Linked DNA regions of Homo sapiens. The protein of the gene in region 3 interacts with the protein of the main gene of each other region in a biochemical or structural test. Each region holds a gene or a part of one and is shown on either strand. Other genes may lie near its edges.

What was found.
Region 1: of the proteins of CBX3 (region 3) and HIPK2, one has a biochemical effect on the other in vitro, tested with the Homo sapiens proteins (one study listed by BioGRID).
Region 2: the proteins of CBX3 (region 3) and LBR form a complex in vitro, tested with the Homo sapiens proteins (one study listed by BioGRID and IntAct).
Region 4: the proteins of CBX3 (region 3) and MKI67 form a complex in vitro, tested with the Homo sapiens proteins (one study listed by BioGRID).
Region 5: the proteins of CBX3 (region 3) and EHMT2 are reported together in a solved structure, tested with the Homo sapiens proteins (2 studies listed by BioGRID, with this or other methods).
Region 6: the proteins of CBX3 (region 3) and ZNF496 form a complex in vitro, tested with the Homo sapiens proteins (one study listed by BioGRID).
Region 7: the proteins of CBX3 (region 3) and NIPBL form a complex in vitro, tested with the Homo sapiens proteins (one study listed by BioGRID).

The regions. Positions count from the first base shown.
Region 1 is NC_000007.14:139,571,768-139,575,801, forward strand, and holds part of HIPK2 (homeodomain-interacting protein kinase 2), read right to left. Parts: intron 3,522-4,034; coding exon 3,361-3,521; intron 1,631-3,360; coding exon 1,160-1,630; 3' UTR 1-1,159.
Region 2 is NC_000001.11:225,421,269-225,425,302, forward strand, and holds part of LBR (delta(14)-sterol reductase LBR), read right to left. Parts: intron 2,822-4,034; 5' UTR 2,808-2,821; coding exon 2,643-2,807; intron 1,010-2,642; coding exon 809-1,009; intron 1-808. UniProt on the Homo sapiens protein: Catalyzes the reduction of the C14-unsaturated bond of lanosterol, as part of the metabolic pathway leading to cholesterol biosynthesis.
Region 3 is NC_000007.14:26,204,211-26,208,244, reverse strand, and holds part of CBX3 (chromobox protein homolog 3), read right to left. Parts: intron 1,878-4,034; coding exon 1,735-1,877; intron 1-1,734.
Region 4 is NC_000010.11:128,096,015-128,099,681, forward strand, and holds the end of MKI67 (proliferation marker protein Ki-67), read right to left. Parts: intron 3,242-3,667; coding exon 3,176-3,241; 3' UTR 645-3,175; downstream 1-644. UniProt on the Homo sapiens protein: Protein that associates with the surface of mitotic chromosomes and acts both as a chromosome repellent during early mitosis and chromosome attractant during late mitosis.
Region 5 is NC_000006.12:31,883,834-31,887,867, forward strand, and holds part of EHMT2 (histone-lysine N-methyltransferase EHMT2), read right to left. Parts: coding exon 3,946-4,034; intron 3,827-3,945; coding exon 3,744-3,826; intron 3,269-3,743; coding exon 3,162-3,268; intron 3,065-3,161; coding exon 2,942-3,064; intron 2,850-2,941; coding exon 2,748-2,849; intron 1,223-2,747; coding exon of another isoform or gene 1,184-1,222; coding exon 1,079-1,183; coding exon of another isoform or gene 1,058-1,078; intron 967-1,057; coding exon 812-966; intron 727-811; coding exon 559-726; intron 372-558; exon of another isoform or gene 118-371; coding exon 1-117. UniProt on the Homo sapiens protein: Histone methyltransferase that specifically mono- and dimethylates 'Lys-9' of histone H3 (H3K9me1 and H3K9me2, respectively) in euchromatin.
Region 6 is NC_000001.11:247,307,607-247,311,640, forward strand, and holds part of ZNF496 (zinc finger protein 496), read right to left. Parts: intron 2,851-4,034; coding exon 2,718-2,850; intron 2,201-2,717; coding exon 2,093-2,200; intron 983-2,092; coding exon 869-982; intron 422-868; coding exon of another isoform or gene 267-421; exon of another isoform or gene 1-266. UniProt on the Homo sapiens protein: DNA-binding transcription factor that can both act as an activator and a repressor.
Region 7 is NC_000005.10:36,883,173-36,887,206, reverse strand, and holds part of NIPBL (nipped-B-like protein), read right to left. Parts: intron 1-4,034. UniProt on the Homo sapiens protein: Plays an important role in the loading of the cohesin complex on to DNA. Forms a heterodimeric complex (also known as cohesin loading complex) with MAU2/SCC4 which mediates the loading of the cohesin complex onto chromatin.

The DNA.
Region 1 (4,034 bases), about 110 Mb from region 3:
CTCACGCCGCGTCTGTCGCTCGGTAAGGCACTAGGAGGGAAGGATGCAGTGTCAAGACTGCGCCAGCTAGGGTGGCGGCGCCGAGGGCCACGCGGGGAGGGCGGCGCGTGCACACCCACACGTGCTCGCTCACCCGCACACCTGCACCGCCACATTGGTTACATGCCTATGTTATATCGCTTTTTTTTGTGCAATTACATTGAGGAATATTCTATTGGTATCATTGGAGTTGAACACAAGGTAGGAGACAAGGGTGCTGAGTGCTACATTCTACTAGGGTGTCTGTGACGACCGCTAGCCCTACGCTACGCGACTAGGGGTGGATTCAAAGAGAAAATACATTTTCAGAAAAGAAAAAAACCTAAAGTTTGCAACACACATTATTAATGACATTTGAGAAACAACGTTGCTTAGGGATTTATCCAGAGTGCTCAGAAAAAGAAAACTCGCCCCGCGCCCCCGGGGGCCTTCCAGCAGCCTGGCCGTCCCCCGTCTTTCCTGACTAGGGAGCCCGGACTGGGCTTCGCCAATCCCACACCAGCTCCAAACATCAGCCTCCTCAGGCTGCAGCCCGACATTCTGGAGGGCTGTTGACCCTTTCGAGTTCTGGAAAAATCCCTAAATCTTATGTTCAATTAATTAAAAATCTATTTGATTTCCATATCAGGTGTCCCTGACAGCAGTCTTCCGTATCACTTGCTGCCATATGAAAATAATCTTTGAAAAGTTCATAAAGTTCTTCAAAAACTGGGGCCCCCCGTTTCTGGAATCTTCCTGTTGCTCTCTTCTCCTTTCCAGTTTGGCGTAGAATGGGTTCTTGAGCTGGGTTTTTTGTTATTGACTTTTTTTTTTTCCTTTTTCTTTTTTAAAATAAAAACCATAGATTTCCCACCCTCTTTAATCCCTTCCTTTTAAAAATGTTCTCTTCTCTGCTCTACGTCCTCCCACTTCCCGGTTCAAGTTTCACTGGTGTCCCGACCCGTCCCCCTGCCCTCTGCCCCCCCCCCCCCCCCCGCCCCTGCCCCGTTTGCATTGTTTGTGTGCGGCATCTTCAGTATAAAAGGCCAGCGCCCACGGTCCCAGGAGCGCCTCCCTCCTTCTCTCCCTCCTCCCTCGGGCCATTCTCTCCCTCCCTCCCTCCCTCCCTCCCCTCCAGTGTTTATATGTAAGGGTACTGGTTGACCTTGGCGGGGCTCAGTGGGTATCCAGTGTAGACGGTGGAGGCTGGCGAGGCGCTGATGTAGGTCTGGTGGGCAAATTGGGCTGGATACTGACTCGGGTGGATGGTGGGCGAGGGCAGGACCCGGGGGCCCATGCTCACGGGGACCTGGTGGACGATGCTGGCTGGGTAGGCAGTGTGCTGCACGGTGTGGCGCGCAGAGCCTTGCGAGGCCACCAGGTGGGCCACGGTGCCGGTGGAGCCCAGGGCCGCCGGCGCAGTGTAGGTGTAGAGGTGGGGCTGGGTGGGGAGGTGGGCAGCGGCAGCGGCTGCAGCCAGATGCGGGTGCACAGTGCCGTGGCTGGGGCTGTTGTGCGGGAAGGAGTACGGAGCCTGGGCCATGGTGGGAGTGATGTAGGCCTGCTGCCTTCGGTGGCTCCCAGTGCGGTCCGTGGTGATGTGCTGCTGAGCCTGGGGAGGAGAGGCACCAAGAGAGACGTCAGGGGCCGACACATGGGGAGGAAGGAATGGGAGGAGGGGCAGGAGGGCAGGGAGGAGGAAGAGAAGGGAAAGACTCCAGAAGTAATAGAAGGGGCTTCCCTCTGTGTGTTGAGAAAGTAAAAATTTACTTGGGACCTGGCGCAGTGGCTCACGCCTGTAATCTCAGCACTTTGGGAGGCAGAGGTGGGCGGATCACCTGAGGTCTAGAGTTCGAGACCAGCCTGGCCAATATGGTGAAACCCCGTCTCTACTAAAATACAAAAAAATTAGCCGGGCATGGTGGCACGTGCCTTGTCTGTAGTCCCAGCTATTCGGTGGGCTGAGGCACAAGAATCACTTGAACCTGGGAGGTAGAGGTTGCAGTGAGCTGAGATCACGCGAGTGCACTCCAGCCTGGGTGACAGAGTGAAACTCTGTCTCAAAAAAAAAAAAAAAATTTACTTGGACTGAGAAAATCCCGACTTGGCCTGCCACTCACTGGGCTGGGATGATACACGGATAAAGCCAGCTGCAAAGTTATAGGAGAACATATTTCTCCCAAGGACGTACAGAAGCTGTGAAGTATCAGGATGCCCCAGGCTGGAGTGCAGTGGCATGAACCTAGCTCACTGTAGCCTTGAACTCCTGGCCTAGAATGATCCCCCCGCCTTGGGCTCCCGAGAAGCTGGGACTACAGGCGTGAGCCACCGCACCCGGCCAGGACACTCTCTTTGAGCAGCAGTTGCTTTCTTACTCACTGTAAAATCTTGTTCTCAAAATTATTGGCTCTCACAACATCTCTACAAAAAATTTTGAAAATTAGCTGGGTGTGGTGGCTCATGCCTGTAGTCTCAGCTACTCGGGAGGCTAAGGTGGAGGATTACTTGAGTCCAGGAGGCAGAGGCTGCAGTGAGAGCCATGACAGTGCCACTGCACTTGAGCCTGGGTGACAGAACAAGACCCTGTCTTAAAAAAAAAAAGTTGGCTCTCAGAAGCGTTGCTGTTTGAAGTTCTGTCAGTCCAAATAAAATAGCCCTCTTCTACCTGGTGAACCTAAGTCACGTGACAGAGACACGGGCTCCACTGATGACCTGGGGCAGCACTTCAGATGAGGGGCTCTGAACACAAACACCCCATTTATCTCACTTTGTTTCTAGAGAAACAGGGCCCTGAGTCCACCACGTGAGTCAGGCCTGATGCCGAGCCCTTGACACAGACAGCCCTGCACCCACAGAAACTCAGGTCACTCACATTTCACCTCAACCCACCCCCCTTCCTCCAGGTCCTGGGACAAATCTTACCCTTGACTTGGGGGCTGTGGTGTGCGGGCCCTCCCTGCAATGAGTCGGATGCAGGTCTGTCCCTGATGTCCCAGGCCGACAGGGCCGGGACACAGTGCTCTACCCTTTGCTGGGTTGAAACAGCAGTATGTGGGCCATCCTATTTTTAAGCTCTGGCACCATGTCACTAAGGGCTTTGTAACATTAGACAAGTCGCTTTGCTTTGGGCCAGCACTCTGTGCACTGGTGATATCAACTTCCCCAAGGGTGACCTGTGGTAGAAAAAGCCACCAGAGGTCACCAAGGGCATGTGCTGCCACCCGTGGCCAGGACTGCAGCCCTGTGAGGTGGGTGAGGGGCCGCCACAGCAATCCTCTCTGAAGCGGAAGGATGAGGGGATGGGGGCCCTGCCTGGCCTGGGGCGCCAGCTGTGGGGCTTACCTGGCTGAGATTGAGTGGCTGCTGCTGCTGGAAGTGGGGGCCCGGCCGCTGCTGCCGGTAGGTGATGGCTCCAGATGAGCTCCCTGAAGAGTGACCGCTGGTGGAGGTCACGTTGCTGGAGGACTTGGACTTGTAGGAGGACGAGTGGTGACTGGTGTTGACTGTGGCGGGAGGAGAAAGAGGTCAGATCAGTGGCAGGGTCCCAGCTGCCCAGAAGATGCTACCCCACCAGAGAACAGTGGTCTTCCAGGAAGAAACATGTGCCTGAGGCCGGGCAGTAACAAATCAGCCTCATCTCCCCCGGACCCACTAGGACTTTGCCTTGACTCTGGATGCAGTGGGGCTCTGGCTCACTCCCTCGGCTGGGAGGGTGGTCGGGGCTGCATGAGGGAATGAAGCAAGGGAAAGCGGAAAAGAATCAGGAGAGGCAAGGTGGGCTGGTGGCCTAAGGCCAGGCCCAGTGCCGTTCCTCTGGGAGGTGTTACTTTCAGCATCTGGAAAATGGGTAGGAGAGATCTGCTATAATTTGAATGTGTTCCCCAAAGTTCTTGTGTTAGAAACTTAGTCCCCAGTGCAAGTGTTTAGGGTGGGGCCAGTAAGGGATGTTAGGTCCTGAGGGCAGAGCCCTCATGAGTGTATGAGTTCATCAGTGCATTAATATTATCTCGGGAGTG
Region 2 (4,034 bases), on a different chromosome or scaffold from region 3:
GGATCACGAGGTCAGGAAATCGAGACCATCCTGGCTAACACGGTGAAACCCTGTCTCTACTAAAAATACAAAAAATCAGCCAGGCATGGTGGTGGGCGCCTGTAGTCCCAGCTACTCGGTAGGCTGAGGCAGGAGAATGGCGTGAACCCAGGAGGCGGAGCTTGCAGTGAGCTGAGATTGCGCCACTGCGCTCCAGCCTGGGTGACAGAGCAAGACTCTGTCTCAAAGTCTGTGTGCCTTCTATCCAGAAAAGAGGTTAACATTAAGTGAATAGAAGATTACTTTTATTCTTTTTACTTAACATACTTTGTCTTTGGTCTACTATCTAAAATACTATTTGTACAAGATCTACAGGCTCCATGCACCCTGATATTTCAAAGCTTACATCTTGAAAGTAATTCCACTAAAATCATCTTTGAATAGGTAAAGTGATAAAGTATAATGATGCTAAGAGTAAGAATGTTTCCGTAATACAGGTTTGTCTTACCATTTCATACATGATATGAACTTTTATACACTGTAAAAACCTTACGCAGTTCAATCTACAAGCTACATCTATTTCAAATTTGAACGCTGCTTTTTTAAAAACTAAAATATTAAATAGCATTTCTGGTAACTGAAGGACATTCTTTTCCATTGATATTTAAAACTTTCTATTCCAAACATTTGTTTTATATGAAAACTCCCAAAGTCATCAACTTAGATTTGATGTTTCAGTGACATTTTAATATTATTAACTGCAAGTAACTTGAGTAAATATATACATAAAGCGGAAGACAAAAGGCTGTATAAGGATAAACACAAGTACCAGAATCAGCGGAGTCAATTTAACTTCCACTTCCCTCCTTGCTTCCTTAATGTCGGCCTGGTGGGAAGCAGAAGCAGATCGGCGGGCACTTTTAGGTGGTCGACCAGGGGATCGGGAGCGTGACCTTGATCGACTCCCTCGGCGTCTGGAAGGGGAACTGGAAGTTGAGCCACCTTTCCTTTGCCTAAAGGAAGTTAAAGGCTAGAAAGGGGGAAGAAGGCAAAGAGCTTTACCACAAATCATAACACATACAGACAGACCCACACTAGAAGAGGATAACAAAGGCAGGAACTGCTACCATTAACTCTAAAATCAGCACGGGAAATGTTAGGATCTGAGAATGGATCAGATGAAGCCAATGGAAAATGCTTTCATAATGATCCATCTTTCATGAGACAAATGCAGCCTTTCCATTCCTGTTCTTTGAAGGTATTTCCATGAAACGAATGTATCTAAACCAATTAGCTGTACTTATTTCCAACACCATATGCAAGAAGGGTAATAATTAACATGGATTAAAACTGAGACGACAGGACAAAATAAATAAGCACACAGACCAAAAAAAAAAAAACAGTACCACAGTTTCACTCTGAACAAAACACATAAGCAGATCTTGAAAATAAAACATGAGCTTGGATGACTGGGAACTGTTTCACTGTGTCCCCACCTACTCCGAATCTCCTTATGTTGCTTCTAGGGATGTAGACAAATTACGCCCCAGGCCAAGTCCCTCACCCCAATTTTTGTGTGGCCTTCCTACTAAGAATGGCTTTTACATTCTTAAATGATTACAAACAAAATCAAAAGAACAGTATTTCCTGAAGTGTGAAAATTATCCAAAATTCAAATTTCACTGTCCATAAAGTTGTACTGGAACACTGCCATGTCTGCTCCCTTCCATACTGCCTGGAGCCGCTCCCATAAAGTCTAAAATATTTACTTTCTGTGCTTTATTCCTGGTCTAGAGCACTCGAAGTGTCATCCTCAGCCATGGGTCCTAGAAATGCTCGTTACTAATCTGTGCAAGTACCAAAATTGAGAAATAGGTGTATGGAAATGTTTATAGCATTTTGACAAAGTAATCTCATATCTATCGAATCTGATAGTAAAACTGTGAGTCGTCTATTGTGTATGTCTTTATTTTTCTAGTAACTCATTTTTATGGCATTTTATATAAATGTTTGTATACTACGGATCAGATATCTTAAAACCCAGGCCCTCACCAGACAGGTTGAAAAGCCCTGGGCTAGACTCGAATCTAATTAATGTCACTCTCCTGATTAAATCCTTGGTGTTCAGGATGAAGCCCAAACCCTTGGGCATGGAATATAAAAGCCCCCCCAGCCTGGCTCCTGCTTAGCCCTCCCCTACCACCCCCTTCCAGCACTTGGCTGACTGTGTCCCCCAGACCCCTGACTTTGGCATACTGCCCTCTCTGCAGAAACAGCCCCATCAACTGCTGTTTTTCCTGTTTGTTCTCAGCACTTGGCTAGGTGTCACTGCCTCTGAAAGCCTCCCCTGAAGCCCAGGGCTCTTCTCTACCCTTGATACACTCAACACCACCCACAGCAAACTCCAGACACAGAACGTAGTAAACCCAGGGGACCAACAGATGCAAATGGCTGTCTTTCCCAGTAAGTGTGAGCTTCTTGGGAACAAGGACTATGCCTCATTCATACATTCCCAGAGCCAAAAACAGTATGTGACCCAAAGCAAGAGCTCAATCCTCTGCCTTCAAACCGAGCTGAACTGACTATCCTGAGCTTAGAAACCATACTTAGAGTTATTTCCCACTTACTGTAAACACACTCTGATAAACCAAAGGAGCTCTTACCTTAATATCATTCTCTTTCAATTCAAGCTCTGTTCCATCTTTATACTTCACAGTGTAAAGCTGGGAGGTGCTGTCGTGGCTCAGAATTTCTACTTCATAATAAAGTGAACTCCCAGGCCATCGACCTCTTACCACTTCACCATCGGCAAATTTCCTACTTGGCATTTTCTATAATTAACCTGAATAGTTTTAAAGAAAAAAATTTGAGTCAATACATACACATTTATGTATTCGTCTTTTTCCACAGGCTGATCACTAAAATACAACTTTCCAGAATTGACTGGTCAGGATTTTAGGGCCAGAAAGGCTACATTCAATCTCATTTGGAATCATTTGAGAGGATGATTTAGCCACTGCGTTATCTATGTGACACTAAAGATTAATTATAACAATGTATATAGGCGCCATAAGTTCACACTATGTAAAATGTTACCCACCTACCGTGATCACAGTTCTCGCTAATCAAAAAATGAGGCACAATCTCACAAAGAACACATTTTCTCATTTGTAAATTTGCGTATCAATTTACAATGGCTTTAAAAATGCATTTAATTGTATTTTTAACAAATTGCCTTTATTAAAAACAGCAAACTATAAACCAGACTGGGAAAATCAAGGATGTACAATTAACATGACTATAACCCAACAATAGGAAGAAAAATAATTCCAAGTCTGTAATGAATAAATTTGGGGGTTATTTAGCTTTCAACTCTTACAGCTAAAGTACAAATGCATACCAAGTAACTCTGCCAACCACCCACCTAAGCCAGGGTGGTTGCCTTCATCCAAGCTCACTTCTCTCAAGCCTACAGCAGCCATCAACCCCCAATTATAACATTCTTTTCCTCTGATTCAAAACATGGCCCACAAGCCCCACAATACTCTAGGAATCCACAAGCAATCTGCAAGAACTGCCACTTACGTGAGGCCTGTCTGCCACCCTTTTTGAAATATCAATTGATAGCTGGGTACTTCCAGCTGCCAGACAGTAATGCCGCTCCATCGGCTGACCAGCGGAATCACATTTCCACACAACAAAACCAGGGCTGCCGACCTTCCCCAGTACCACATGAACTAGCTGGGGCCACGTCCAAGGGGCAGCCAGTAGGACAGATATGAGCTGTCTCCCAAATCACCTTCATTTCACCAACTAAGCACTTCTTGATGTATTGTCCAAGCCTATCAATGTACATTCCTCACTGGCTCCTGTTAAGAGCTGATGATACAATAAAAGCAACATTTAGGAACCTTTGAAGACTCTGGAATTAAGGAGAAAGTTGAATTACCTACCCCAAGGGAGTAGTGGGAGAGTGGGGGGGGAGGCGGGGTGAGGGAGGCCTTTCTTAACCACCACATTTTTTCACTGTTAATCGTCTGTGAAAAAACTTAACA
Region 3 (4,034 bases):
CACCCCCCAGCCTGCCTCCGCCAGAGACAGGGTCTTGCTTTGTTGCCCAGACGAGAGTGCAGTAGTGGAATCATAGCTCACTGAAGATTCCAACTCCCGACTCAAGCGATCCTCCACCTCAGCCCAAGTAGCTGGGACTACAGGCATGCACCACCATGCCCAGCTAACTTAAAACACACACTTTTTTTTTTTTTTTAATAGAGAAGGGGTCTCATTTTGTTGGCCAGGCTGGTCTTGAATTCCTGGTGTCAAGTGATCCTCCAGCCTTGGACCCCCAAAGTGCTGGAATTACAGGTGTGAGCCACTGCACCCAGGCCCTATATTCTAATTTGCTACCCTGAGACTCCAAATTAGTAAACCCAAATTACTGGGTAGAGGACAATAAAAGTCTCTGCTCTGTAGTATTATTTTCATTAAAGTCTTCTTTGGCCTGGCACGGTGGCTCACACCTGTAATCCCAGCACTTTGGGAGGCCAAGGCAGGTGGATCACTTGAGGTCAGGAGTTTGGGATCAGCCTGACCAACATGGTGAAACCCGGTCTCTGCTAAAATACAAAAATTAGCCGGGCATAGTGGCAGGCGCCTGTAGTCCCAGCTACTCAGGAGGCTGAGGCAGGAAAATCGCCTCAACTCGGAAGGCAGAGGTTGCAGTGAGCTGAGATCACGCCACTGCACTCCAGCCTGGGCAACAGGGTGAGACTCCATCTCAAAACAAAACAAAAAAAAGTCTTTTACATTACCTGTTACACTGCACATGGGAAGTACGCTATAATCATGCTAGTGGCCTTAAGTTTTGGGAGAAGAGGGAGGAGCCCATTCATTTCCTAATGTTTTGATGGGTAAAAATAATTTTTCATGTTTCATGGGCTTAATAAAGAAGGGACTTACGACACATACTTAATTTAAACTAAGAATACTGAAGGATAAAACAGGCAAACGTAAATCTCCCATTCAATTCATAATTCCCAAACTGCTATGAATTAAATGTGAAGAGCAGGGGAAGTAGGAGATAACAGATAGGTGAAGCCCAATCATTCGACTATCATATGCTCCATCTCCAGCGTGCTCAGGAAATTGATCTCCACCTATCCATTTTTAATTGTCACTGCCTATGGAGCTTTGTGGTGTAAGGGGGAAGAATCAAAGCAGATAAGCACAACAAACCCCAAGCGTTAAAGTATGTAATTGTTGCATGTTCAAGTTATTCACATTTTGTGAATAACATTATCAAGAATAATGAGAGCAATCCATATCAAAGAACACAAGGAACCAGAGAGCTTAAAACATGCCCAGGTTCTACTTCTTAGGTATAAGGATATAATAAACCTAGTATAAAGCCTAGATTATATGTAATCCTGTATGAGACCCACTAGTCTATATTGTAAAGCTTCAATGTTTTTAGCACCCTCTGTGTGGAGGAAAATAATGCAGATTATTCTAATTAGTGTAATATCTAACCACATTAAAATATATTACATAGTAAACTACACTCCATAATTTTATAAATTTGACTCCCCAGGGTAATAAACTAGTCTCTAGTCTGCTCACCTTCAACTGTACAATAAAGTCTTGGTTCTTTTGAAATAGACCTCAAATGAGACACCTAAAATTCAAAGTGTCTTTACATTTAAAGACACCTACAGGAAAGCAGGTAAAAGAGCCAGGTTAAAAACAAATTCTAAAACCACTTAGCTGCAGTTAAACATATAGTAAAGATGCACTAAAGTTTCTTACTCTGTAAATCCCTTCCACTTCAGGAAATATTCCACTTTCCCATTCACTACACGTCGATCTAGTACTTTTTCCACGACAAATTCTTCAGGCTCTGCCTCTTCAACTTTTTTACTCTTTCCATTCTGTTTTTTTCCCATTTTTTGCTAAAATAAAACAAAAGAGAAATTAAGAAATATTCCTCTTGAATTTTGAGCACATTTTCAAGGCTCAATTGCTTATATTATTATCACATTCGACATAAATTTTTACTTCTATATCCCAGGGCAGACACCTTCTGGAAAGATTAAAAGTCAACAGACAATAAAATAAAAGAATGCTTTATCTTGTTCATTTAGTTCAAACTTACAACCCACCACCAAAATAATACAATAAAAAAACACTATCTGGAAACAGTTATTTTTTTCCAGTCTTTTTTTTTGAGACAGGGTCTCACACTCTTGTCGCCCAGGCTGGAGTGCAGTGGCGTGATCTCAGCTCACTGCAACCTCCGCCTCCCCAGGTTCAAGCAGTTCTCATGCCTCAGCCTCCAGAGTAGCTGGGATTATAGGCGGATGCCACCATGCCGGGCTAATTTTTTTTGTGTTTTTATTAGAAACAGGGTTTCACCATGTTGACCAGGCTGGTCTCAAACTCCTGACCTGAAGTGATTCACCAGCCTGGGCCTCCCAAAGTGCTGGCATTACAGGCGTGAGCCACTGCGCCCGGCCCTGTAGTCTTAAAAGACCAAGTTTACTAATTTTCACTCATTTTAACAACACTGCAACAAACAACTATGCAGGAAGTACCTAAAGGGTGATACAGAGAAGCAAGTAGTAGTGACAGGTCTTAGGTGAACCTATGACAGACCTTGTATCCACCCCCAGATGGTAAAAGCCCCAGCCCCCTTCTCAATTCAAATATTAATGTCAAAAGCATCAATGATACAGAGAAAAGATAAATGCAGAATGAAAACATGGTTCAAAATCCTGATACCAACTGCAGGGTCAACTATAGAGACCACTAGGAGGTTCAATTAAAGGACAAGATTATTTTTCCATAATCTCTGTAGATAATATTTCCTACCACTTAGAACAAAACTATAAAGCTATCACTTCAAGAGACCAACATTACAAATTTATTTTAATTCCCTAAGGTGAAAAAAATCCTTCCTTCCTGGTTTCTCAAGAGAAAGTCTATACTGGTAACCAAATTCACTTTAAACAGGCATTTTCTTTGGTATGACACTATTTAAGAGAAGCAGGAAACCAACGTGAACCAGCTCTTTCCAATGGCTCAAGATTTCCTATGAGAGGACTAAAAATGGGGAAAATTTTTATGAGAGGATTAAAAATGGGGGAAAAAAAACCCTGAAATGGTTAATCAGAAGATCCTATGGGCTGAGAAGGAATCCATCTTAACATTTCATCTTAAAGCAAATGCTATTGCCGGGGGCAGTGGCTCATGCCTGTAATCCCAGCACTTTGGGAGGCCGAGGTGGGCAGATCATCTGAGGTCAGGAGTTTGAGACCAGCCTGACCAACATGGAGAAACCCCGTTTCTACTAAAAATACAAAATTAGCCAGGCATAGTGGTGCATGCCTGTAATCCCAGCTACTTGGGAGGCTGAGGCAGGAGAACTGCTTGAACCCAGGAGGCTTAAGTTGCGGTGAGCCAAGATCACGCCATTGCACTCTAGCCTGGACAACAAGAGAAAAACTCTGTCTCAAAAAAACACAAAAACAAAAAACCCAAATACTATTTAAAAAAGATAAACCTTAATTGCTCAATCATTAAAGCCATCCCACAAGTAAAGCAGCAAGCAGAAAAAAGTTAAGAACACCTCAAGGCTACAGAAGGACATTTCAAGCTATGCAGGCATATGAAGTGTGCAGACAGATATGTAAGAAAGGCCTCAAGACTGCAAAAGGGCATTTCAAGCTATGCAAGCATATAGGTAACACATACACACACACAAAATAAAAATCCCCTGAAATACAAAAACATGCAGCAAACACCTGACGTTTTTGGATACCATTTCTAAGTCAGGTGTTATGATTCTCATTAGTCAAGATACTTGAGTACTGGGCCCAAACAGCTTTCTGCCACTGTACAGTACAAGAAGGTAGGAATAATGGTGGGAGGAGCAAAGACAAACTGTAATAGACAGAAGTGTATCAGATACCTATACTACATGAAAAACAAAACAGCTACTGCCACAAAGGGAGAAGGCTAACAAAATAAAGTCAACAATAAATACAGAAAATGAAAAGGATACACACTAAGGTTTACAAAAAAAAAAAGGCAGACAAAATGCCATACAG
Region 4 (3,667 bases), on a different chromosome or scaffold from region 3:
AAACAGTAGGATCTCAGCCACACGAAATCATTTAGTTAAGTAGCTACAGTTTACTTTATGGAGTCGCCGTTTGCCATGTTAATTCTTGATGACAGCCCAGGATGTGGGCTGCAGACTGAACCCACTTCCTTCACCAGACTGACCACCGAGCACGGCTCTCCCTCCCTCCTCAGCCTCTCAAGATGGTAGATGCACCCACCTGCAAACTTTTCTCTCCGACAGAAAGGCCTCTTCTTCAGGACTAACTGACCTACCGCAGGCTACTGCCCCTGGAACTTGCCAGCAAATTCACTCCCGGGATCCATGTCAAATCAGGGTTGCCAGAGGAAAGTCAGGGCATGTATTTTCATCTGCTGACTTGGGGCAGCCCTGGGTCAAATCCCCATCCCTCAACTCAGCACCTCTGTTGCAACAAAGCAGGCACAGCTGCGGTTGCAGGTAGTTCTCGAGATACAGCAGGCCATTCCTGCAGGACTAAAAGCAGCTGCGATGACTTATTGGCCAAGAGAGAAAATGACCATCCAGCCAAGTCCTTGTAGAAATGAAAATGGAACGTAATGAACCAGTCTCTCTTACACTGGCCTGTCTGCCCCACCCACACTTAGTTTCTTTCCCCACTCTCCCTATAATAAAAATACCATGGGTTTTAAGACCATTTCATCACATACTTTATTGGACATCTCCTGTGGCTGGTCACTGGGATAGAGTAACCAGGAAATGCAGTCGGCCCTCATGAATGAACAAAACTTACAACCCCAGGAGGGGAGCCAGAAACTCAATTAGTGGCTTAGTTTCCACAACACTACGTGCTACAAAGAGGTACAGAACAATTCCAGGCAAACTAAGAACCTGCCCCAGCCTGGAGGACAGGCATGGGGGTGAGGGAACCCACAGGCAAGAAGCCTCCCTTAAGCTGAGCTCAGGACTGGATGAAATGATCTTGGTGGGGCAGGAGGGAAAGTTCCAGGCAGGGAAAACAGCAGGGAGTGTGTGGTGGTTGGAGGTGCCTGCCTAAGGGAGGCAGGAGATGGTAGGTACAGAGTTAGTGTAAGAAAGCCCAAGAGAGGCTGGGGGACCAGATCCCACAGGCCCTGGGAGGCGAAAAAGTAAAAACAGCTTGTATTTAATGGGAATGTCCTATTACATGGAAATTCACTTGGAAACTGAAGCTCAGAGAAGTTACCATACCATGGTGGAAATGGGTGGGTATTTGTTCTCAAATCCAGTCAGCCTAGGGGAATGGGCAGTATTTGTCAGATCTCTCCCTCCCCCAGTACCAAGGAGGGTTGTGTAGAAGTGGTGTTCATCTATTAAACACGGGGGTAGCCCTTAAATGAACATTTTTAACCCATCATCAACAGCCCTGTAAAATGAAAACCACCCTTAGCGTGCTCTTGAAATACTGTACTTACCAGGGTGAGAAAAGGTGCTGACATACTTCAGCAAGATTTCTGGTTAGAGCTGAACTCTAAAGGATTTTTCTACTAAACAGAATATTCCACTCCACAGGCATATGGCTGGATGAAATTTTTCTATGTGAGGTTCATAATTACTACTAAGTCTAAAGTGTTAGAACAACTTGATCATAGCAACATTCCTACTGAAAGTTTTGAGGTTGGCCTACGTAGAAGGAAGCATTTATGCCTCACACCTTCCAAAGTGCCTCTGCTAAGAGCCACTCTTCCTTGAACACCCTCCCCTGTTCTGCCCTGGTGCAATCCCTGTACCCTTTGCAGCCCTGTGAAGCCCTCAGATGTCCCCTCCCTGCCCCTTTCTATTCCCTCCCTCAAGCAGAATGTCATTCTCCCTTACGATCATGGATGACGCTGTGAGAACCCTATCATGGCAGCCAATATAGTACAAGTCAGTACCGCTGATTTCTGCATTCATTCAGCAAGTATTTATGATGTCACCTGGCTCCCCGCCAGACACTGGGGAAACAAACGTGGAGACAGGGCACTGCCCGCACAGGGCACATTTTGGGGGACAGCTACCCTGTCTGGTGCACCATCCTCACCTGCACCTGGCAAGGTGGGTGAATGGGGAGGAATCCAGACAGGTGACCTGGGGGATGGCGGGCTATTCTCTGATTTGGGGAACACAGAGAGGACAGGGGGCAAAGTGGAAAGTAAATGAAGATGAACGAGTTATATCTACAAGTCTGAAGCTGGAGAAAGATGTCTGGGCTTCAAAGGAGATTTCGGAGGCAGCGGCTCACAAGGAAGCGATCCTGAAATCGTGGCTGAAGGTGCTGAGTGCTCAGTCTCTCCAAGGATGATGATGCTTTACAGAGTACTGGTGTCACTTCCTGTACTGGGTGGCATCGGGCTGCCAGATAGAGTCAGAAAGAAAACAGGCGGGAGCAGAGCCAGTAAACTTCCGAAGCTTTCAATGACAGGAAAGCTGGAGATTAGGAGCCAGTTTGAGGTCGTGATGGCCCACAGCCTGGGACCCTGAGATTCCGCGGGTGGAGAATGTCTCAGGTGAGAGCAACCCTAGTTAGAAAAGTATTCCCAAGAGACCAAGGCAAGCCACGAGTCACTCCTTACAGAAAGTCACTCTTGGTCCCTAAAGATGTGCTCACGAGTCATTCTCCAAAGCACAAAACTTTATTTTCAGAAAGGAAAGGACATCAAAAATAGGACTGTCCTGTGCAGATGTCCAATAGCCTTAATTTGGGGACCAAATGCCCCCGGCCATTGGAAAGACAGATCTTGTAAGCTCCATTCATCCGTGCGCTCATCCATTCATTCGTGTTTACCGAGTGCCTGCTCAGTGTTGGGACAGACGAGGATAGTTGTTCCTGCCACCGTGCCCTGGAGGACATAGGCAAACAAACGACGACACAGTGTGGCAAGTGTCACAGTTAAGGCTGCTGTAGGGTGGCTGTGGGTGGTGACAGACCTCAAGGCTTCATTCTGCAAAGCTGAGGGCAAACCTTGGCCCAGACTCCTTCACAAAGCCCCCGGTGTTCAACTATTCTCAGTCCAGGAGCCCAGCAGTGCTCCCAGTGGAGTTTATGAAGCCGATTCAGACCCAGCAAATCCAAAGTTTTCTTCCCTTAAGCAGACTGACAGCCTTACTTACAGAATTCACTTGTAATTTATGACAAAAACTGCACTAGAACTTATCACAAAACTAACTTTATTATATTTTTCCCAGTTCGATTTTTCTGTCAAATATCTTCACTGTCCCTATGACTTCTGGTTCTTATTTTCTTGACACACACATTGTCCTCAGCCTGTGTGGGAAGAAAAAAAATAGAACTCTTAAGTAATTTAAACACCCATTTTTAGAATCGACCTCCTCTGCAAAACCCCAAAGGCTTACTAGGTATTATGCAGGTCCTTAGTTGCAGAAAATTAATTTTGAGGTTGGAAATAAGTTTTAAAATATATTCCATTAACATTGTTTTTCTTGACTTGAACTGCTTTTATTATGCAGTTTTTTTACACTTAAATAATGTGATCTTTTCATACAGAAGTTCCTAATGCATTTTTAAGCTAATTCATAATAAAATTTCTTCATCGATGCACACATTTTCACAAACTAAAAAATGTCACTCAGAAAAAGTGAATCCAACCAGGATTAAGTCTTTTGGGTCTCCTAAACCAAGGAACCCCTGTAGACAGAAGCATGCCCAACTTGCATGCAGGAGACCTGCCTT
Region 5 (4,034 bases), on a different chromosome or scaffold from region 3:
TTCATGGTGGACGTCTCGCAGTTCTCTGAGATGTACTTGTAATCCTCAGGGCAGGGCTCCCCATCCACACCGTTGACACAGGGAATGGGCACGTTCTCATAGCCCCGAGCCACGTCCCTGCAGAAGACGGGAAGAAGGGGCTGGGAAGCTGGAAAAGGGGGTGAGGAGCTACTCCAGGTATAAGGAAGAGAGTTGGGGAGGTTCCTGGGGCTGGGGGCAGGGGAGTAAGGTTGCCAGGTAAGATGCAGGACAGCGAGTTAACATAGAATTTTAGATAAACAAGAAATAGCTTTTTAGTATGTCCCAAAAATTACACAGGACATTCTCACACTAAAAAAGTATGCATCTGTGCATCTGAAATTCCAGTTTAACTGGGTGTCTTCTATTTTTATTTGCTGTATCTGGCAACCCTAGTGGGGAGGGGGCCTGTGGGTGGTTCTGGGGATTCAGTGGTGCATGGGGAGGGGTTGGGGAATGTTGTGAGGATGCAATGGAGCCTGGGGAGGGTATGGGTGGGGAGGAGGTGGTCTTGGGTGCAGAGAGGGGCCCAGGGCTCACCGGCAGATGATCTTCTCTGTGCGGATGGCCCGATTTCCCACCCCAAGTCGGAGCTTGCGGTTGAGTTGAAGCGCAAACCACACGTCGGAGCGCTCGGGAGTCAGGTCCCATGCTGTGTCCCCCTCTTTGTTCCGCAGCTCAGGGTTGGCCCCACGTGACAGGAATAACCTGAAGAGGGGACAGGATGCCCAATGCAGGGTCTGAGGCTGCAAGAAGTGGGGGCAGGGGCATCAAGGGCGGGGCAGGGGCTCACAGCACGCAGTCATGGTAGCTCTCCCGAGCTGCGATGTGCAGGGGGGTGTCCCCATGGTAGTTGACAGCATGGAGGTCACAGCGCGCATTCAGAAGGACTTCGGCGATGGCGGCGCTGCCCGTGAAGGAGGCCCAGTGCAGGCAGATGTTCTCCTCCTGTGGAGGTAGGAGGGGAACAGATGAGGTGCAGGCAGCTGGGCCCTTGAATCCAGCCTCCACCTTGCTCAGGGGCCTGGGGCTGCCCTACCTCAACCAAACGCTCACTCACGTTGTCAGTGAGGGTGACGTCGGCGCCCCGCGTCAGTAGCATGCGGATCACCTCGATGTGCTTGTGCTCTGCAGCCCAGATGATGGGCGTCCACCCCCCACTGTCCTGTGGGTGGGAAGGGAGTGAGGGTGGGGGCAGCTGGCCCTGCTCACCAAAGCAGCAAATGGTCAAGATTGGCTGTGTGTGTGAATCCCAGCTCCACCATTCACAAGCTGTGGGACCCTGGGTAAGTCACTTAACGTCTCTGGGTCGCAGTTTCTTCATCTAAAAAATGGGACTAGTAGGGTCGGGCGCGGTGGCTCATGCCTGTAATCCCAGCACTTTGGGAGGCCGAGGCGGGCGGATCACGAGGTCAGGAGATGGAGGCCATTGTGGCCAACACGGTGAAACCCTGTCTCTACTAAAAAATAGAAAAAATTAGCTGGGCGTGGTGGCAGGCGCCTGTAGTCCCAGCTACTAGGGAGGCTGAGGCAGAATGGCGTGAACCCGGGAGGCGGAGCTTGCAGTGAGCCAAGATCGTGCCACTGCACTCCAGCCTGGGCGACAGAGCAAGACTCCGTCTCAAAAAACAAACAAACAAAAATGGGACTAGTAGCGTCTACCATCTGATGCCAGAGAGAAAATAAAGTAATTGTTCTCTTTCCAAAAAATACAGCCAGGAGCTGGTCATGGAGGTGCATGCCTGTAGTCCCAGCTACTCATGTGACTGAGATGGGAGGGTTGCTTGAGCCCAGGATTTCGAGGCTGCAGAGAGCTATGACTGTCTGTGAACTGCTACTGTACTTCAGCCTGGGTGACATAGCAAGACCCTGTCTCTTAAAAGAAAAAACGAACAAAAATTTCCTAAGTCTGCCCACTCAAAAGTCCTAGAAGCAGCGACAACCCAATAACAATAAACACTCCTAGGAACATAGATTGTATTCTCTAAAAAATGCTTCTGGCCGGGCGCTGTGGCTCACGAGGTCAGGAGTTCAAGATCAGCCTGGCCAATATGGTGAAACCCCGTCTCTACTAAAAATACAAAAATTAGCCGGGCATGGTGGTGGGCGCCTGTAATCCCAGCTACTCGGGAGGCTGAGGCAGGAGAATGGCGTGAACCTGGGAGGCGGAGCTTGCAGTAAGCTGTGATCACGCCATTGCACTCCAGCCTGGGCAACAGAGTGAGACTCCGTCTCAAAAAAAAAAAAAAAAGTTTCCCATAAAGGAAGCAGAGTTTCTTAGAGAAATGGTGGATTCTGAGTTGGGGGCAGGAAATGTGCTGAAAGGTCAGGAGGCTCTCAAAGGCCACTGGGCCACTGGGTCATGTCACAGCCACAGAGGCCTCTTAAAGGGGCTTCTTCTGGACAATGATGGAATAATTCAAAGACTGAGAAGAATGCCAATAAATGACTAAAACACATCCAATGTATGACAACCCAAGAGTTAATAAAAAGCCTCACTGGACACTTTCAGAGATTAAGACAGGAACTGATTATTCTGAAACTTGATAAAGAGAAAGAAACGAGAAAGAAAAGAATGAAGAGAAATACAAATGAGGAAGAAGAAAGCAATGAGGACAGACACGAGCAGTGTGAGGTCAGATGTAGGAAAGGCGGCCCAAAGCCTGAGGCCAAGCCAAGGAACCCAGGCACCAGGGACCCAGAGGGGCTGGGCTGGGTGGGCCGCTGACCTGGGCGTTGACGTCCACCTGTCCTGTGCTCAGCAGCAGGCTGACCATCTCCAAGTTCCCGATTTTGGCTGCGTGGTGGAGGCAGGTGGAACCGTCCTCCTCCTGAGGGAGACACGGGCAAATGAGCCTTTGGGCTGGCACCCCAAACCTGGTCCCTGACTCCGGGGGCCACGCCCTGCTGCCTGCGCGCACACCTTGCTATAGACACAGCCACCACGCTGCACCATGTAACGGGCTACCTCCAGGTGGTTGTTCACCACGGCCTCCATCAGTGGCGTCCGCTGCTGTTTGTCCACTGCATTTATGTTGGCTCCAGCCTGTGAGGGGGCAGGAGGGCTGGCACCAGGGAGGCATGGGGCAGGGGAGGGGCCTAAGGGCCTGGTGAATGAGGCATGGGGCCGGGCCCGTGCTGACCTGCAGCAGCACATGGCAGATCTCCACGGAGCCCTTCTGGGCGGCTGCATGCAGGGGCGTGCGCTTGCTCTGCTGGTCGCTCTGGAAGTTGGGGTCCAGGTTGTCCACTGCGGGGAGAGCCCGCCACACCGGGAGAGGGAGGGACAAGTGGTAAGCAAGCTAGGGGGCAGGTGGCACTTCTTTCAGGAAGGCTTCTCAGGGCCCCAAGCTGGATCAGGGCCCCTCCTGGCATTCTCCGAGCTTGCCTCCACCACAGCATTTATCAGAATAAGGAGTCAAAGGCATCAGCTCTGCCTGAATTCAAACCCTGCCTTGCTTCTCAGTACCACTGTGCACTGTGCAAGGTCCCTAACCTCTCTGTGCAAGCCAAGGCTAACAGGTATAAGCACTCAGAACAGGACCCAGCACCTATGAGTCACCACATCCCCATCGTTATGGGTTACATGTGTCTTTTCCCCACCACACTAAGTCCTTCAGGGCAAGGACTGTGTCCTTCACGACTGTACTCCTGGCCCTGTACCCAGTGCCTGGTATATACATGAAGCTTGGTCAAGGTCTGCTGAAGGAATGGGTGGCACTCACACAGCATCAGGATCACCTTCTGCAGCTCGCCCTGCTTCACGGACAGGTACAACTGCCGAGGGTGGAAACGGAGCTTCTTCCGCCTGCCAAGGGAGCACGGGAGCGGGGAGAGAAGGGGAGCTCCTCAGATTCCAGCATCAGCCTCGACACCACTCCTCTGGCCTCAGCCCCAGTTGCTGTGCCTGAGCAACTCCCCACTCACCTCTCTGACTCCTGGATGACCAGGGCCTTTTCCAGGGCCTCCCGGCCTGGCCCCAGTGGCAGCCCCACGGCTGAAAGGCAGCCCCCATT
Region 6 (4,034 bases), on a different chromosome or scaffold from region 3:
CCTTTCAGATCTCCCACACTAGAAAAGCCCCTTTGTCCATGCATGAAAGGGGGCCAAGTACAAGATGCATGGAGCTGGGTCAAAATGGCATAAATCTTGCCTTCAAAAGCATCACAGGTAGAAGAGATAATATGTGTGAGTTGGTCTCCATAGCTGCAGAAAACTACAATGACACGTGGGTTCAGGTAAGAATCAGAGGCTTGGGTTTTGTATTGAGAAGAGAAAGATGGCAGTATTGTAGCCTCTGCTTCTGGAAGTGGTGACTTTTACCAAGACGACTCAGAGTCTACACTGTGGCTATTTCTCTGAAAGCAGGAATGGAACATACACTTTCCAAGAGTCCTGTGCAGCTTCAGTATGCCAGAAACCTGCTCTTTAATCCCAGTTCCAAGATTCTGTGCCAGGATGCTGGCCATCCATGCTGAGAGAAGAAAAACACTCACTGCATCACCAACAGCACTACAGCAGCACCCTGCTTTGACACACCCTCCCCGGCCCCTGGGAAAGGCAAGGAGGGTGAGCCTGGGATTGGGAGTGAGCTGGAGAATGACCCCAGCACAACGGAATCAGGGCAAGCAGCTAAGAACACCACAGCAGAGGTCGGCGGGGATCCTGAGGGGTTCAGTTCCTAACTGTCCCATGCCATCACCACCGCACATTTACATCACACACCCACATGCCCCCAACACACAGGTGCACCCATGAATGCACACACTCACACATGCAGCACACCACATATACCACATGTGTATGCACGCACACATGCATTCAACACAACCATCCCCTATGCCACACATGCATACATACATTCATGCGACACACCACAGACACACAGGGACAAACCCATACCTCCCTGACCCTTCTTTACCTGGGTAGGTGTTTTGAGGCACCACCGTCTGTGGGCAGGCCTGGAACTCTGGCACCTGCAGCTCCTCACGTTTCCTTCTTTCTTCTACCTGGAATGGCTGGAGACTTGGAGAGTCTTTCCAGAGGAGGAAATGGAAAAATTGATTTGTTTTGCACCTACAGCACTACCTGGGAGGGTGCTATCCGAATAGATGCCAGGCTACGATCTGGGGGCGGCCCTGGGCTCCGTCCTGGGGACTGGCAGGGGGTGGCCACTCAATAAGTGTCTGCTGAGTGAATGAACCTGAAGGCAAAATGGGCCAACTCCACAAACATGAGCTCTGACGCTAGACAGAATCGACGTAGATCCGGGTTCTACTCCACCCACTCTATGGCCAGAGACAAGCACTTCCCCCAGCCCCATATTTATTCCCACTTTCTGTGGTGGGTTTTCTATAGTCATCACCACAGGCTCCTGCACACTCCGCACATCCTGCACAAACAGCTTGTGCAGAGCCTACAGGGTAGAGATGGTACAGGAGCTACTGCACCACACCAAGTCTCTGAACGCTTGTTCCAGGTGGGGATGGTGTGTCAAAACCTTGTCTGCTTCATGCCAGCTCTAGGTCCCAAAGGGGAAGAAGGTGTGGAGCTGCTGATGATTCTGTACAAAGCTATTTCCTCCTGAAGGAGCAGATGCTTCGAAGCACCATGGCATGGAGATCATGGGTGCAAGTGCTGGCGACACAGCCTGAAGGAGGGCTGGAAACTGCTGCTGCTGAGCCCCAGCACCTCCCCACACCCCAGTGTCCTCACAGCACCCCTGTACCAGGCAGATGGGAAGACTAGACAGGTGAGGCACCTCAAAGGGCTGCGCTCGGTGCCCAGTTAGGAGACACTCCCTCTGCAACTAGGCTTGTCATGAGTATCTGACTTCACTCCTGGAGGGGCTGCTGCATTGTCAGCACAAACCAGATGTTACTTACAGGCAGAGGAGAAAGACATTCCTATTATTTCCCAGTCCTTGGCCAAGGGAGTACAATTCCAATGCCTGGCAAAATTAAGATCCTCCATTCTTTCTATGAAAAGTCAGGGACAAGGCAAGACATGCAAGACCCACATAGAGTCTGGGGAAATGAAGAAGGCAATTAGGGGCCGCAGAGAGAAGCCAGAGAGTGGGCTCACCTCCGGCTGCCAGCAACCCTTCCCCCTACTCTGTCCACTCAGTTCTGGAATCATTACTCACCCAAGTAGGAGACCTGGGGCACTTCTTTGCCCTGGAGATCCTGCAACTCTGGAACGCGTGGCTCATTCTCCTCTCCCTGGGAGAGATCTGGCTGGGCAGCTAGGTCGTCTGTTCAAAGAAAAAGGCAGGGTACATGTTTATTAGTAATCTGATCCTGCAGCAACCAGGGCTGGTCCAGAAGAGAGAAGGCGGAGGGATGCCCAGCGGGCATGGCACCATCAGGGGCGAGAAGTGAAAAGGCCAGAGCTGGCAGTGCAGGGGCAGTGGGGGCAGCACACGCAGGGAGAGCTATGGGCTTGGGGGTCTCTCTGAGGCTTTCGGGTGTAAAGCAGACATAAAGGGACAAAACGGTAAGAACGATGGAAGAGAAATGGACATACAGCACATGTTCTATTTGGTTCTGATAAGCCTGATGTGGCGAGACAGCAGGTGATGGTCAATCGGACACACTGCCTGTAGGGCCGCTGTGTGCAAATGACCTCCTGTCCAGGTTGGGGGTGAACAGAGAGATCTGATGCAGGCCCCGCTTCCCTGATCCTATGGGACGAAGTTGACTCTTACTCCAAGTGAGAACTCCCCTGCCCAGTTCCCTGGTCTTGAGGTGTGGGGGGAAGTTAAGTCTTACTTGGAGGCATTGAGACCCCGTAATCCTCCCCAATGATGAACTCTCCATAGAAGCCAGTCTGGGCAGGATCTAGAAGGGACCAATCCTCTTCAGAGAAGCATAAAATCATGTCCTTGAATGGAGAAACCCGACTCTGAAAGCACAGGAGAACAGGGATGCCTCAGTCCGGGACGAGCTAGGTGTCTCAGTCTTAGTCCACTGAGGCTGTGACAACACAACGCTGTAGGACGGGCAGTTTCTATACAACAGAAATCTGTTCCTCACAGTTCTGGAGGCTGGACGTCCAAGATCAAGGTGCCAGCAGGCTGGGTGCCTGGTGAGGGCCCACTTCTTGGTCAAAAGACAGGTGTCTTCTGTGTCCTTACATGATGGAGAGGGCAAGGGAGTTCTCTGGGGCCTCTTTTAGGAGGGACTAATCCCACTCATGAGGACTTTGCCCTTGTTACCAGATCATCTCCCCAAAAGTCTCCACTTCCTAATACCATCATCTTGGGGATTACAATTTCAACACAAATTTTGGGGAGATATAAACACTGAAACCATAGCATTCTGCCCCTGGTTCCCCCAAATTCATATCCTTTTCACATGCCAAACAAATTCATTCTATCCCAATAACCCTCAAAGTCTTAATTCATTCCAGCATCAACTCAAAAGTCCGGAGTCCAACATCTCATTTAAATATCATCTAAATCAGTTACGGTTGAAACTCAAGGCACAATTCTACCTGACACAAAATTCTCTCCAGCTGTGAACCTGTGAAATGAAACAAGTTATGTGCCTTCCAAATAGTGGTGAGGCCGGCGCAGTGGCTCACACCTGTAATCCCAGCACCTTGGGAGGCCGAGGCAGGCAGATTACCTGAGGTCAGGAGTTTGAGACCAGCCTGGCCAATACGGTTAAACCTCATCTCTACCAAAAATACAAAAAGCAGCCAGGCGTGGTGGTGAGCACCTATAATCCCAGCTACTTGGGAGGCTGAGGCAGGAGAATCATTTGAACCCGGCAGGCGGAGTCTGCAGTGAGCTGAGATCATGCCACTGCACTCCACCCTGGGCAACAGGGTGAGACTCAGTCTTAAAAAAAAAAAAACAAAACACACACACAGAGACACACACACACACACACACACACACACACACATATATAGTGGTGAGACGGGCACAGGATAAACATTCCAGTTCCAAAAAAGGGAAACAGAAAAAAAGAAAAGGAGTAACAGGTCCCCAGCAAGTCCTGAACCTATGGGTCACAGCACATTATGGTTTACGGCTTGAGAATAATCTGCAGAATAATCCTTTTTGTCTTGATGCTGTGCTC
Region 7 (4,034 bases), on a different chromosome or scaffold from region 3:
TGCTTGGTAGAGAATTAAACAGCATTTACTAATATAAATAAATGCCATATAATAATGTCTATTAGACTAGATTTGGGGGTTGAGGGTTAAACAGGTAAGTAAAATTTGGGGGTCGAGGGGTAAAAATGAGCAAGTAAAATGTTCAATAATAAGGCAGCTGCCAAAATCTGAGAGAAATATCTACCACTGTTCAAAGTACTATTTTTTGATAATACTCTTTCGTAAGAGCTTCACCAAAGTTAACAATTTTAAACTTCAGTCATTGACAAACTACTGATACATAGAACATGAATGAATCTCAGAAGCTTTCTGCTAAATTTAAAAAAAAGACATAAAAGGCTATATATGATTCCATTTTTATGTTCTAGAAAAGGAAAAACTATAGAGACAGAAACCAGATCTAGTTGCCTCGGGCTGCAGTAGGAGCAGGAAACTGATTACAAAGGGATACATGGGAACTTTTGGGGGTAATGGAAATATTCTGATTGTGGTGGTGGTTTTAAGACTGTGTATGTTTGTCAAAACTCATCAAACTGCACACCCAAAAGACTGAGTTTTACTGTATAAATTATACCTCAATACACCTGACATATTAAAAAAATTTCAGTCATCAGATAACTATTTTAACTGAATAGCCTATTTTCCCCCAATGACCTCTGAACATTTTATGGGCCTCCTGCTCCCCAAAGGGTACCCTGCTTCTGCTGACTTAATGTCTCAGAACTTTGGTGTCACTGGTCTCAGACACCACTCTGCCATCCACTATCCAGCGGGTGGTGGTCTTTTGGATAGTTTGCATGGAGTTGCTGCTGTCCAGGGCATCATCAAGACTGAAGTTCTTGCCATCTTCAAGCAGGCGGTGGCAGGTGGCGCTCTCAGCCTCCAGCTTGACCTTGATGTTCAGCATGGTCTCGTACTCCTGGGCCTGGTGCTGCCCCTCTGCCTGGGTCTGTGCCAGCTCTGACTCCAGGTGCAGCAGGATTCTGTTGAGCTGCTCTACCTGCAGGGCATAGCAGGTCTCCACCTCCCTCAGGCTGTTCTCCAGAAGCTGGCCTTCAGATTTCTTATCAAGTCCAGATGGATCTCCAAGGACTGGACCGTATGTCTCAGCTCCGTGAGTGTCATCTCAGCAGCTCCGACCTGCGCGGACTGAGTGGTGACCACTGTGGTGCTCTCCTCAATCTGCTGAGACCAGTACTTGTCTAGCTCCTCTTGGTTCTTCTGAGCTAGCTCGTCGTATTGGGCCTGTATGTCTGCCATGATCTTGGCGAGGTCCTGAGATTTGGGAGCATCTACCTTCACGGTCAACCCAGAGCTGGTGAGCTGGGCTTGTAGGCCTTTTACTTCCTCTTCGTGGTTCTCCTTCATTAAGAGCAGCTCCTCCCTGAGAGCCTCGATGTCTGTCTCTAGCTACAGCCAAGTGACACTGGTGTCATCAATGACCTTGCAGAGCCCACGGATGTCGTTCTCTACAGACTGGCACATGGCCAGCTCTGTCTCACACTTGACTCTAAAGCCATCAGCAGCAAGGTAGGCATTGTCAATCTGCAGAACAATGCAGGCATTGTCCACAGTATTTGCAAAGATCTGAGCCCTCAGATCCTCGATGGTCTTGAAGTAATGGCCCCAGTCTCTGACCTGGGGTCCCTTCTTCTCCAGGTGCTCCCGGGTGTTGCTCTCCAGTCTCTGGTTCTTGGTCTCTAGGCTCCTCACTCTGTCCAGGTAGGAGGCCAGGTGGTTGTTCAGGCTTTGGAGGGTCTCCTTGTTCTGGATGCCTCCCATTCCTGCCAGACCCTGGGCCATCCACTTGGCCAGGCCCCTGGACCCCAAGCCGCCGCGGAAGCTGGTGGAACAGGACACGGAGATCCGCGAACCAGAGCCCCTGGCGCCTGCATAGACGCTGGCTGCACTGCTGACCAGTCAGGCACCATAGCTGGGTGGCTGGACAGAGCCCAGGAACCAGTAGTTGGTGGAGAAGGTGGAGCAAGTGGTGAAGCTCATGCTGTCCAGGGAGGAGAGCGAGAGGACAGGACTCAGGCTTTGCTGACCCTGAATAGCATTTTTTATGTGCTGTAACGTATTTCTCATTATTTAACTTATCTGATTATATATAATACTTAAATTGGCAAAAAAAAAATTAAAACTGCAATAAATCCAAAGATTAAAACAAGAAAGTATTTAGATATTTCACTTCTTGCAATACTCCAGTATCTTACTCCAATTATACTGCCTAAGGAATCAGAACAAAAAACCCTTCCTGTACTTCACGATCCTCATTAACAGCTTAAAAAGGAACTTTAAATTTTTCTTTATCTTTATAAAGTTATGTATGTATTGTTAGGGATATATGTAAATAAAATATTCCTACCCCCAAAGCAAGAAGCCCTCAAGGACACAGCTCTACCTAAGAAAATTATATTTTGAAATTAAGAGAAATGTACTTGCCATTCACTAATCTTAGATTTAAAAACATACCTTTAAGAAATACCACATGGCTCAATTCTAACTAAACAACAAATATATATTGAATACCTAAAACAGGAGCAGCACTGTGATGATGTTATAGACATACAGATGAAGATAATACAAAATCTCTTTGCTTTCACAGAGCTGATGGTTGAGTATGGCTGACGAATATAGGAACAAATTATTTTATCAAGAGATACAAGTAAAAAACTGTACAAATGCTATGAAATGGAATGATCAGGGAAACTTTTGTAAAGGCAATGCTTTCTCTTTCTCCTCAGAAAAAATTTCTGGTCCTTGAGCTGACATTTTGAAAAGTAATATATGTCTATAGAAGTGGGAACAATACACAAATATATATTTTCATGGTTAATGTCAATGCTTTTCTACCAGCAATCTATTTTGAACTTAGGAAGATCTCAGAATTTGAGGCCTCTGAAACTGCTCTGGGTTTCATCAGGGAAAGTAACACATTACAAGATCAACCACATTAACAACAAATACCTATATTAGCCACAGTATGTAAAAATTTGCTTTGGGGGAGATGAAATGGACATTGATAGTGAAAGGAAGAGATACATAAAAAAAGGGAAAGAGAAAATAGTAAAAAGATTAGTAGAGTTAAATAAAAGCGTATGTCATGTGTGTCTTTCAGGATAACTTGAAGGTAACGTTATGGAATAAACACTAGTTTCCAAATTCTTTTCTTAAAGGGGAAAGAATCAGTAGTTTTCAGGTCATGACATTTCAGCTTTCAATCTTAGAGCTTTCTGAGGTATACGCAGAACCCTAGGAAGAAATTTTTTCATGTGCATCAATTTTAAAGAATAGTATTAATAAAAAATAAATAAATAATAAATGGAGTTATGCCCAACTTAAAACCATGTAAAACTTCAACTTGGTCATTACCAAAAAAAAAAACTGAATTACATAGAGCATACACTCAGACGATCGATGTCTTTGGCTCAAAACTGGCAACCCACAATCTGATTCAAATAAAGACAACTAAAGGCAGGTTTTAAAATACTGAAAGGGTTGACAAGTAGCAGTGTTGAGAAAACTCTGTAATGTATTTCCTCACCAGGATTAAAGGACATTTTTGCTTTACAAATACCAAATTAAATATCATAAATATCAATCATAAAGACTAATATTTTAAAAGTATAGTCAGAATTTAATAATTAGTGTTTTAGACATTTGTTAGTTTTAATGTATCTAGAATAGTATTTTTTCAATAGTGCTCATATAAAAATAACTGTGCATTTCACCTGCATAAGTGACCCAAATATGTTAATTCTAACAAAAGGAAATCCAGCATTTTAAAATTATGTCACAGCTTCTGCATTTCTCAGGAGAGGCAAAAGTATATATATAATTATTTTAATAAATTAATATTGCTAATTTCTGAAAAAGTTTTTCTTTTCTGTCAAAGGAGAAATATGTACAAAAGAGAACTCAAAGGAAATTGGTATATGCATGTTAAGAGATATGTCACACATGTAAGATGGCAAAGCAATTTACCTACATGAATTATTTTGAAAATTCAATGCATTCTTGGGAATTTTTTT